Homo sapiens: one gene and its partners. The protein of the gene in region 3 purifies or fractionates together with the protein of the main gene of each other region. This does not show direct contact. Each region holds a gene or a part of one and is shown on either strand. Other genes may lie near its edges. The genes, in order: HINFP, PSD2 and ZBTB49.

Region 1 (3,651 bases), on a different chromosome or scaffold from region 3:
TCTGTGTTTCGTTTATTCTTTAATTGTTACTCAAAGTATGCTTCTGGAACTGCTTGCATCACAACTGGGGTGCTGAGTTAAAAGGGCAGATTTCTAGGCTTAACTCCTGCCTTCCTGAATCCGAACTTCTCACGCAGGCGCTGGATAACTACATTCGTGTGCAGATCTAAAATTGAGAGCTACCTGGGCATGGTGGCTCACATCTATAATCCCAGCACTCTGGGAGGCTGAGGCGGGTGGATCACCTGAGGACAGGAGTTCGAGACCAGCCTGGCCATCATGGTGAAACTCTGTCTCTAGCAAAAATACAAAAATTAGCCAGGCGTGGTGACACACCTGTAATCCCAGCTACTCAGGAGGCTGAGGCAGGAGAATCTCTTGAACCCGGCAGGTGGAGGTTGCAGTGAGCTGAGATTGCGCCACTGCATTCCAGCCTGGGTAACAGCGAGACTCTGTCTCAAAAAATAAAAATAAAATGAAATAAAATTGAGAACCTTTAGTTTTTTGTTTGTGTGTGTGTGTGTGTTTTTTTTTTTTTTTTTTTTTGAGACAGAGTCTTACTCTGTTGCCCAGGCTGGAGTACAGTGGCACGATCTCGGCTCATTGCAGCTTCTGCCTTCCAAGTTCAAGCGATTCTCCTGCCTCAGCCTCCCGAGTAGCTGGGATTACAGGCTTGTGCCACCACGCCTGGCTAATTTTTGTATTTTTAGTAGAGACAGGGTTTCACCATGTTGGCCAGGCTGGTCTTGAACTCCTGACTTCAGATGATCCACCTGTCTTGGCCTCCCAGAGTGCTGGGATTAGAGGTGTGCACCAGTGCGCACAGCCGAGAACCTTCAGTTTCATGTTTATCTTTCTTCAATAAATATTTATTACAGACTGGGTGCAGTGGCTCATGCCTGTAACTCCAACACTTTGGGAGTCTGAGGCAGATGGGTTGCTTGAGTCCAAGAATTCGAGACCAGCCTGGGCAACATGGCAAAACCCTGTCACTACAAAAACAAAACAAAACAAAAATTAGACAGATGTGGTGGCGCATGCCTGTGGTCCCAGTTACTTGGGAGGCTGAGGTAGGAGGATCTCCTGAGCCTGGGGAGGTCGAAGCTTCAGTGAGCTGTGATTGTGCCACTGTACTCCAGCCTGGGTGACAGGGTGAGACTCTGTCTCAAGAAAAAAAATATTTATTACATGCCTAAGCATGCCTAGCAGTGTATAGACACCCAAGGTGCAGTATAAACTACACAGATACGGCTTTTTATGTTCAAATGGAATCTACATTTTAACAGAAGGTATTAGCAGAGTGGTGGAGTAAACCGTTGGATAGGTTAGGTAAAGGCAGATTGTATGGCACTGTGAAAGTCTGGCAGGGGACTTATGATTCAATAAGAAATAAGGAGCTTCTAGGCTCATCTGTAGGCTCTATGGAGTAGAACCGTATATGGACTAGAGTCAGCCCAACATGACCCTACCATTACCACTAGTGTGTGGCCGTGAGCAAGTCAGTTGACCTCTGGAACTTCAGGTGTTTATCTATAAATGAGGTTAAAAATAGCACCTACCAGCTGGGCGTGGTGGCTCACACCTATGATCCCAGCACTTTGGGAAGCCAAGGTGGGTGGATCACCTGAGGGCAGGAGTTTGAGACCAGCCTGACCAACATGGGGAAGAAACCCTGTCTCTACGAAAAATATAAAAATTAGCCAGGCGTGGTGGCGGGCGCCTGTAATCCCAGCTACTCAAGAGGCTGAGGCAGGAGAATCGCTTGAACCCGGGAGGCGGAGGTTGCAGTGAGCCAAAATCGAGCCATTGCACTCCAGCCTGGGAGATGAGCGAAACTCAATCTCAAAAAAAAAAAAAAAAAAAGCACCTACGGCAAAGGGTGGTGTTGGTAATTAAATGACATAATGCAAATAAAATGCTTACTGTGGTGCTTGACATATAGTAAGTGTGAAATTAAAAACAAAAAGATTTATTATCTTCATTTTGCAGATGAGAGTATTCAGAAGTTAAGTTCTTGACAAAGGTCATACAGCTAGTAGATGGTAGACAGTGGAGCCAGGATTTGAACCCTGATCCTTCTCAAAAGCCATCTGTTTGAACCTGAGCATTGTTCTGCCTCACAGAGGAATAATTCCTTCTTGGTGGGTTGCTCTGAAGCTTCATGAGAAAATGTCTGTTAAAGCGTTTAGCTCAGTGCCTGGCACACACTCAATAGTGTTAGTTTTTGTTTTCCCTTTCCACAAACACCAGACATCTTCCAGGGATTTAAGGAATTACTCCATCCTTACTGTAAAAGGGCAGGGTTTCTCATGGGTCACTGGAACAACACGTGCTGATTCTAGGCAGGCTGCCTGCCCAGCTTTTTGCCCTCAGCAGCACCTGGGTGGAATTCTTGCAGCTGTGGATTTCTTCCTCTTCCTCTAGGGTGAAGGCCATGCCGCCTCCTGGGAAAGTTCCCCGAAAGGAGAATCTGTGGCTACAGTGTGAGTGGGGGTCCTGCTCCTTTGTGTGCTCAACCATGGAAAAGTTCTTTGAGCATGTCACTCAGCACCTGCAGCAGCACCTGCATGGCTCTGGGGAGGAGGAGGAAGAGGAAGAGGAGGATGACCCACTTGGTAAGAGAGCAGGACACAGGAAGGGGAGGAGCTCAAGGAAAGGTGGAAAATCTGACTTTCTTTTCCTTAGAGGGAGAAGGCGGCCTAAGAGAATGGTGGTTTATTTTCCTAATTGTGTTTTTGTTGTATATAAAAACATTGTAAACTCATTTATAGAAAACTCAGTCAACAAGGATATAAGGAATAAATCTGCCATCCTGCCATCAAGAAGTAATTGCTGACAGTACTTTAGTGAACATTGTTTTTGACATCTCTCTGCCTGTGTTTACATATATTTAAATACAGATGAATGTGCTTTTTTTTAATCATTCTGTACAAGTTGTTGGCAACCTGTGTTTTGTTGTTGTGTTTTTTTTTTTTTTTTTTTTACTCTTCTAGTATTCCCAATTTTTTTTTTCTTTTACTGCAACCAGTCAGAAATACATCTTACTTTTTAGAGACAGGGCTTCATCTTGTCACCCAGGTTGGAGTCCAGTGTCATGATCATAGCTCACTGCAGCCTTCAACACTCAAGGGATCCTCCTGCCTCAACCTCCCGAGTAGTTAGGACTGCAGGCATGTACCACCACCACACGCCAATTTTTAAAAAAATTTTTTTTAGAGACAGGATCTTGCTTATGTTGCCCACTGATCTCAAACTCCTGGCCTCGAGCAATCCTCCTACCTTAGCCTCCTAAGTAGCTGGGACTATTGGCTTGTGCCACCAAGTCCAACCCCACTCCCACCTTCCAATTTTTTTTTTTTTTTTTGAGACGGAGTCTTGCTCTGTTGCCAGGTTGGAGTGCAATGGTTCGATCTCGGCTCACTGCAGCCTTTGCCTCCCAGGTTCAAGCAATTCTCCTGCCTCAGCCTCTTGTAGCTGGGACTACAGGCGCGCGCCACCACGCCCAACTAATTTTTGTACTTTTAGTAGAGATGGGGTTTCACCATGTTGGCCAGGATGGTCTCAATCTCTTGATCTCATGATCCGCCCACCTCGGCCTCCCAAAGTGCTGGGATTACAGGCGTGAGCCACCGCACCTGGCCCCATCTCTCA
Region 2 (3,651 bases), on a different chromosome or scaffold from region 3:
GATCATGAGCTGACCCCGCTGAACACCTTGCCAGACCAATCTTCCTCATTCTAGCGCAATCTTTACAACTCAGCTCAGGATACAGTAGCCTGCAGCACACCAACACTTCCACTGAAAACAATAAAAACCATGGGTTTTCTTAAGATATTGGAAAATTGCTGAGGCAACAAAGACAAAAAGGGCCAAGATTCTGGAGAGGAGAGAACTGCGGGAAGGTAGTTTGACCTTCTGCAGCTGCTTTTTCCCTGGGGGCATTGCTGATTATGGGCACAGGCAAGAGGCAGGGCATTGGGTGGCTTCAAGAGGCTGGAGACTTCAGGGGCTGTAAACACATGGCCACTTTTCCCTTTGAGATAGTTGCTGAATTTCAGAGATATAAAAGATGTAAAAGGCAGGAGGCTAAAAGGCTAAGCAGAAAACCTCTGAGAAGTAGAGGGATATTTTGTTGAAGAGGGGGCAGTGTTGCTGCACTGAGAAGACAAAACTAGGCTTCTGAGCCAACAAGGGGGTTTGCCCAACTGAACACATGAGGCTCCCAGTAGAAAACTCCGAGGGCCTGGACCCTATTATCAGAGCAAACCCTGAGCCATACCAAACTTCAGTGCAACCTTAATTGGATTAGCACTGCATCCCCACAAACCTTCTAACTGCCTAGCAAAGGACAACGTAAACCCTCTCTGGAGGAACACAGAATAATCTAGAACCACTACAATTCTATACAAAGTATACAGCATCCAATTTTTTTAAGTTATTAAGCATGCAAAGAGACAGGATATATGATGGAAAACCAAGAGAAAAAAGAGACAATAGAAACAGATACAGATGATTCAGATGATAGATACTGGAGTTAGCAGCAAGGGCTTTACAACTAATATGTTCAAAAAAAGAGAGGGAAAGGTGGAGAAAATAATGGAAAAGATGGATAATTCACCCAGAGAATTAGAATCTATTTTTTAAATTTTTTAATAAAATGGAAATTCTAGAAATGGAAAATATAACATAAATTCAAAACTCAATAAATGAGTTCAAAACCCATTTATGCCTATGGTTCCATTATTGGAACGCTAAGCATGTGGGAGTTATTTATATCCTACTGCTCAAGGTGATCGCCAAGGTCTGATTTTGCAATTCAGAAAATTGCAACCTCAGGCATAAATGGGTTAATGACATATTACAAACAGAAAAGGGTAAGTGAAGTGAAGTGAAAACAGGTCAACCGAAAATATCCCAACAGAAGCAGAGAAAAAAGAATGGAAATTACTTTTTTTGTATGTGGTTTTTGTTTGTTTGTTTGTTTCTTTGAGATAGGGTTTCACTCTGTCACCCAGGCTGGAGTGCAGTGGTGCAGTCATGGCTTACTGTAGCCTCAACCTCCCAGGCTCAGGTGATCCTCCAACCTAAGCCTCCTGAGGAACTGGGACTACAGGCCTGCACCACCATACCTGGCTAATTTTTCTACTTTTTTGTAGAGACTGGGCCTCCCTATGTTGCCCAGGCTGGTCTGGAACTCCTGGCCTCAGGTAATCTTCCAGCCTCGGCCTCCCAAAGTGCTGGGATTACAGGTATGAGCCACTGTGCCTGACCAGAAATTACATTTTTTTAAAGTGTAAGAGACATGTGGAACACAGTCAAGATGTCTAACGTGCATGAGTCACCCTACCCCTTAGCTCTGAGATGCATCCATCTCTCCTAGGACCTGGCCAGTATCTGCCCAGCTGGCCCCTGCCACCAGAGCCTGCTAGATACTACAGGGCTGCACCCATCCATTCTACCCTCCTGCTCCTGGGAACCTGCAATTGGCCCTCCTGAGGTCTACTCCCTAGGTCCAAACACCAATAGAGTTGAGATAAAATCCCATTTTACCATCTCCTCCTTCGATGACTGTGGGGAAGTCTCTTTATCCCTCTGGCCCATAGTTTCTTCATGTGAAAAATAGGAATGATAGTGCCTACCTTACTGGGTACAGAGGATGCAGTAAGCAAGGTGAGTAAAGACCTAGAGCATCTGGCAGGCAGGAAGTGCTCAATACAGGCAAGTCCTGAGCCTCCCTTCCTCTCCTAGAGTCACAATTACATTTCCACCCTCACATCCTAACAGCTACTACAAAGTGGGCACTCGCCTAACTGTTGGGCCGCTGCTGCTCCTGTGGCCCCTTCCCCACAGCCTCACCAGGGGTCAAAAGACTTGCCCAAGGTTGTACAGCAAGTTTATGGTAGAGTTGACATGAGAATCCAGAAGTGCAGCCTGTACCACTTGTGGGCACTGCCTGTCCCAGCCCCACTGACCTGAGTGCTCCGTCCAGAGTCAAGCCCGAGAAGTCGAAGAAACTGAGGTACTCCCCGGCCACCAGCCTGCTAAACTCGTTGCTGCCAGGAGAGTATGGGATGTCTGTTAGAAGCAGGGTCCAGCCCAAGGATGACAGAATCACAGGCATTACTTGGGCCCAGGGTACCCGGACCCACCCACCCCCTAGACCTGCTCAACCCCTAGGCTGCTGGCTAGTTGGGCCATAACATTCAACCTTGGTCTTGGGGTGTCAGGAAGGCTTTCTGGAGGAGGTGATGTCTCAGTCAACACAGGGAATTACGAGCTAACCAGGCGAAGGGAGTAGGGGTGGGATGATGCAGTGTCCCCAGGGAGGAAACTGCATGGCATGTCCAAGAAGCTACTAGCAGGGCCATGTGGCCAGAACCTAAAGAGCAAGAATGGGGCAGCAAGTGATGAGGCCGGGACCAGGGGAAGGACCAGGACTTGATTCAGAAAGGTTAAAGCAGGGATGGTCAGTCTGTATTTTGGAATGCGCTACCTGCTGAGTGGAGACCCACAGGGGGACTGCCATAGTTGTCCAGATAGAGATAGAAGGGATGGGGAAAAGAGAAATTTAGGGGGCAGAATCCACAAGACAAGGAGATGGAATGGACGTGCGGCATGACCAAGAAGGTGGTCCCCTGCGGGAGATGTGAGACTTCAGGACGAGGCATCCGTGTGAGAGTCATCAATTCACAGCTGGTCAGTAACAGCTCAGGGTGGGGCTGAGCCCATGCAACAGGAGAGGGCACAGACAAGCTGGCCGGCCCAGAGCCCCGAATCGGGGTGGGAACCCAGGAGCGAGCCAGCGAAGGAGGCTGAGAAGCAGCAGCCAGAGGTGGGGTGTGTTGTCCTGCAGGCCAACGAAGACTGTATTTCAAGAAGACTGGCATGAGGAATTCTTGTCAAAAACTAGAACAAATTTCCACCTGATTCTAATTAAGCCTGGAGCTCGCTGCCCATTTGCAGGACTCATGGGAAATAGAGAAACATGTTAAATAACACCATCAGGATACCATATCCAAACCGTGGAACATTCTTTAGGACAAATGGCTTGGTTTCTTCAACAAATACACGGCACTTAAGAAGGGAGGAGGACCGCCAAACTGCAGAACTGTTGTTGGTTAAAAGAGACTTAACAGACCAATCGGCCAAGTGCAATGTGTGGACCCTGTTTGAATCTTGATTTCAATAAACCAACATTTTTTAGACAATCAGAGAAAATTAAACACAGACTGAATGTTGGAGAGATTAAGAACTTTTTGTTCATTTTGTTAGAAATTATAATAGAATCATGATTATGTAAAAAAAGATCCTTATCAGTTGGAGATACATACTAAAGTA
Region 3 (3,651 bases):
CAGGAGGGCTATGCTCCCAGGCATCTGGAAGGAGCGGCAGATGACACTGGGCCCTGAACTTGACTTTCAGCGTTCAGGTAGCTACAGCAGAAAGGGAGATGCGCTGCCCGCCGCAGCTTTTGTTTGTTTTCTACCATTGGCAGAGAAATGGTTTTCCTGAAACTGAATCGAGAGTCGCTTCCTCCTCGGCTTTCCCCAGCATGTGCTGAGACTGAATATGAGGACACTGACTTCTAACTGACCCCGTGACTATCTCTTGCCTCAAGGCACTTCGGTATGAATCTGTGACAGGCAGAGACTCTGTACTGTTTATTTTTATGGACCCATATAGCACTTGGCATACAGCAGGTGTCTAAAAAATGTTGAATCAATGAATGATTAAATAAATGAATATAAAAGCTACGTAACCAAGGTGCGTACAGAGCTTCGTGACTGGCATAGTCCTGGCTGATGCCTGTTGTCCTGGCACAACCACCAGATGATGGAGTACGTGGCCTGATTGACGTACAGCCCAAGGACAGGAAGGAGGGTCGAGGGTGCCAGCCTGCACACACAGCAGGGGAAGAGCTCCTCATTTATACCACGCTGCAGAGGAATCGAGCTGCCACACACTTTATTCCACGTCAAGAGTCAGATTCTCTTTTGCCAGGTCAAAATCCTACCCACCCATCAAGACTTAGTTTCCTCCTCCCTGGGGTGGAGCTCTCACAGGCTGTTACAGACCCACGGCTTGTGGCACCTTCCACCACCTCCTTCTCTCCTGAAATCTAGTCACTCAGCTGCCAAGTCCCATTTCCCCTACTAGACAGTCACCTCCTTGGGGGCATTAATCTATTATATTTTCAGAGACATTTTTAGAATGAATGAAAATATTAGTATAAAATAATTTTGTTGCATTTAAAACCCCATTTCCTTTTTGGGACTCCTGTCCCAGCTTTTCTTTCTTTGAATTAACTTTTCTTTTTATTATTCTCTCGTGTGTCACATGCAAAGCCAGAAGGTTTGAATTTACCTGTGTTCTGCAGTGGCAGGGTGAGCCCACCTGTGGCTCATCTGTGAGCCACCACTTCAGAAGACACTGACTACCAAAGACACTGAGACTAGACATGCTCCCTTCCACACGGAAGAACACGCCCAGCACTGACCTCTTTCCACAGATCTCGCAGATGTATGGTTTTTCACCAGAATGCCGTCGTAAGTGAGTCTGCAAGTTACCTGCCTGCAAAAAGAGGAAAAGAAAAACACACCAATAATGAAAGTTTTTGGTTTTTTAAATTATATAAATTCAAAAGGAAAACTGACACATTTAGCCAGGTTCCAATTCAAATTCCAGATGAAGATGAGCTACACACAACTCAAAAGAAGCCATGGGCAAGAGCGTGAAGAGCAGCCAGAGTGCCTGGCCACCTGCTGTACACGAGATGTGTCTCCACCCCGTCCTCCATGTGAGCCCTTGGCTGTGTCCTAGTTCAGGCAGGCCCTATGCAGTGCTTCCCTCTTAACAGCACCCTGTGGAGGCTGCTTTGGTGGTCGCCAAGCCTGGACTTTAAATAGGCCTTGATGTATTTTATTTGGGCCATGTATTTAAAACATCACTTAAAACAAACAAAAGCACCATACGTCCTTATTTCAGTATTGTTTCTTTCTAAAAAACATACTTCTGTTCATAAAGAAGGGAAGACATTTCCAAAAAGTACTTCCTCTGGCAAGTACACTTGGTTCTTTCTGACAGGTTTCTCAATTTTACCTTTGTGCAAAAGGGCAAATCAGGAGAATCACAGCAGCCTCTCAGGTGCAGGGCCATTGTGTTCCTAATTTCTGAAACTAGCAAGGCTTTGCGAAGAATAACACTGAAACGGAGATCATCAGATGGATTTCTATGTACTAATCAACAGGAAATCAATATTAAATTACCTAAAGTACAGCGAAATTAAAACTGCAAATGCCTCAGATATTTAAAAAGCTAATTGCTAATGTTTCGAATTAGGTTTGGAAAATCTTCCATTGCTGTAATTAAGTTAATAGTCTCAACCTTTATTTTCCTCATTTTAATTTTGTACAGTGTTCTGTGGCAAAAAAAAGAAAAAGAAAAAAAAGGAAAACCTACTGAAATGAGGTAATATACCCAGCGGTAAAAATGAGCAGGTGTCATGCACAAGATAAGTGAAAAACGAGAATGAATACTAGCCAACTAACACACGGGGCTTTTTTTAATTTGCAAATTGCATTTTAAATAAAATGCAAAGATTAAGATTCATGGTTAAGATTTGAAGATGAGTTTGATATTGACTTGTGAATGAAAACTAGAATTCACAAGTATTAAAAATGCCATCTGCGGACTATATAACATGAAAGATTCATCATGTCTATCAAATTCTGGGAAACAGAGTTAGACATTACATTTAAGAATATGATAAATGTGGCTTCGAAAAAACTCAAGTTTATTTTCAACAACCAAAGAGAAAGAGTTTGACAAAACTTTGGAAAATGTCCAGCTTTTAATAGAATGGCTCCTAATAACAATAAAACAAATATCAACAGCAATATACATTTGCTGAACTTCAAATTAGGCCTTTACCACCTATTTTCTTGAGATAATAATACAACTAACACTGTATTCAGATAAACTGTACAATTACCATTGTATTCAGATAAATAAAGGAGTTGTCTCAGTTACATGGTGGGGCCAGAAATTAATACTGGTTGCTGTGAATCTAAACTCCTCTACTTGTGGGGAAACCTTGAGGAAACACAAGTTTCTATGAATGAAATAGTGTGTTTTGAATATTCAATATGACGGTAACTTTGCCACTCAGGAAACACATACTGGAGAGTTAAAAATAATACACCAGTGTTTTAAATTAGTCACTTGCAAATTTCAGAAAAGCTGATCAGTTGCATAATAATCGGAATAGCACCATCTGCTGAACTGTTAAATTAGAGCCCTCTTTTTTCGGTTATTTTGTAAACTATGTATTCTGAATGAAATGCATTCTGGGTTAATTCTTAGCAATGTTGCATTTTTCCTTTTTAAAAATGGCATAACGATTACTTGTTTTCAAAAGAAATATAATCAAATGATCTTCCATTTAATATTTTAAGTGGTAGAAAAATCTTTAAAGTGTTCTTTACCTATTTTGTACTAGAAATAGATAATGAAAACAATCTTTCTCCCTGATACAGGAATGCATATTTCTGATAAATAATATAAAAGCAGATTAAATAAAACTAATGGAATGGGCCATGCAAAAAATCCAATAGTACATTCAGATAATTTATTCCAGGTTACACAGCAAACTCAGGCCCAGATTATTAGAGCTTTAGTCAATATTTTTATTTTTGGTAAACTTTTGATATATTCTAGTACTAAGGATATCTTAGGTGCACAGACCATGTCTTAGAAATCACCTATAGTTGTGTCCATAAAAATTCTAGCAAGTAGGCCGGGCGCAGTGGCTCATGCCCGTAATCCCAGCACTTTGGGAGGCTGAGGCAGGTGGATCATGAGATCAGGAGATCGAGACCATCCTGGCTAACATGGTGAAACCCCGTCTCTACTAAAAATACAAAAAAAAAAAAAAAATTAGCCAGGCATGGTGGCGGGCGCCTGTAGTCCCAGCTACTCAGGAGGCTGAGGCAGGAGAATGGCGT

What was found.
Region 1: the proteins of ZBTB49 (region 3) and HINFP purify together in Homo sapiens (affinity purification with western blotting; one study listed by BioGRID). This does not show direct contact.
Region 2: the proteins of ZBTB49 (region 3) and PSD2 purify together in Homo sapiens (affinity purification with mass spectrometry; one large-scale study listed by BioGRID and IntAct). This does not show direct contact.

What each region holds. Positions count from the first base shown.
Region 1 is NC_000011.10:119,124,511-119,128,161, forward strand, and holds part of HINFP (histone H4 transcription factor), read left to right. Parts: intron 1-769; exon of another isoform or gene 770-1,257; coding exon of another isoform or gene 1,258-1,289; intron 1,290-2,424; coding exon of another isoform or gene 2,425-2,434; coding exon 2,435-2,615; intron 2,616-3,651. UniProt on the Homo sapiens protein: Transcriptional repressor that binds to the consensus sequence 5'-CGGACGTT-3' and to the RB1 promoter. Transcriptional activator that promotes histone H4 gene transcription at the G1/S phase transition in conjunction with NPAT.
Region 2 is NC_000005.10:139,816,196-139,819,846, reverse strand, and holds part of PSD2 (PH and SEC7 domain-containing protein 2), read right to left. Parts: intron 2,367-3,651; coding exon 2,286-2,366; intron 1-2,285.
Region 3 is NC_000004.12:4,310,609-4,314,259, reverse strand, and holds part of ZBTB49 (zinc finger and BTB domain-containing protein 49), read right to left. Parts: intron 1,220-3,651; coding exon 1,146-1,219; intron 1-1,145. UniProt on the Homo sapiens protein: Transcription factor. Inhibits cell proliferation by activating either CDKN1A/p21 transcription or RB1 transcription.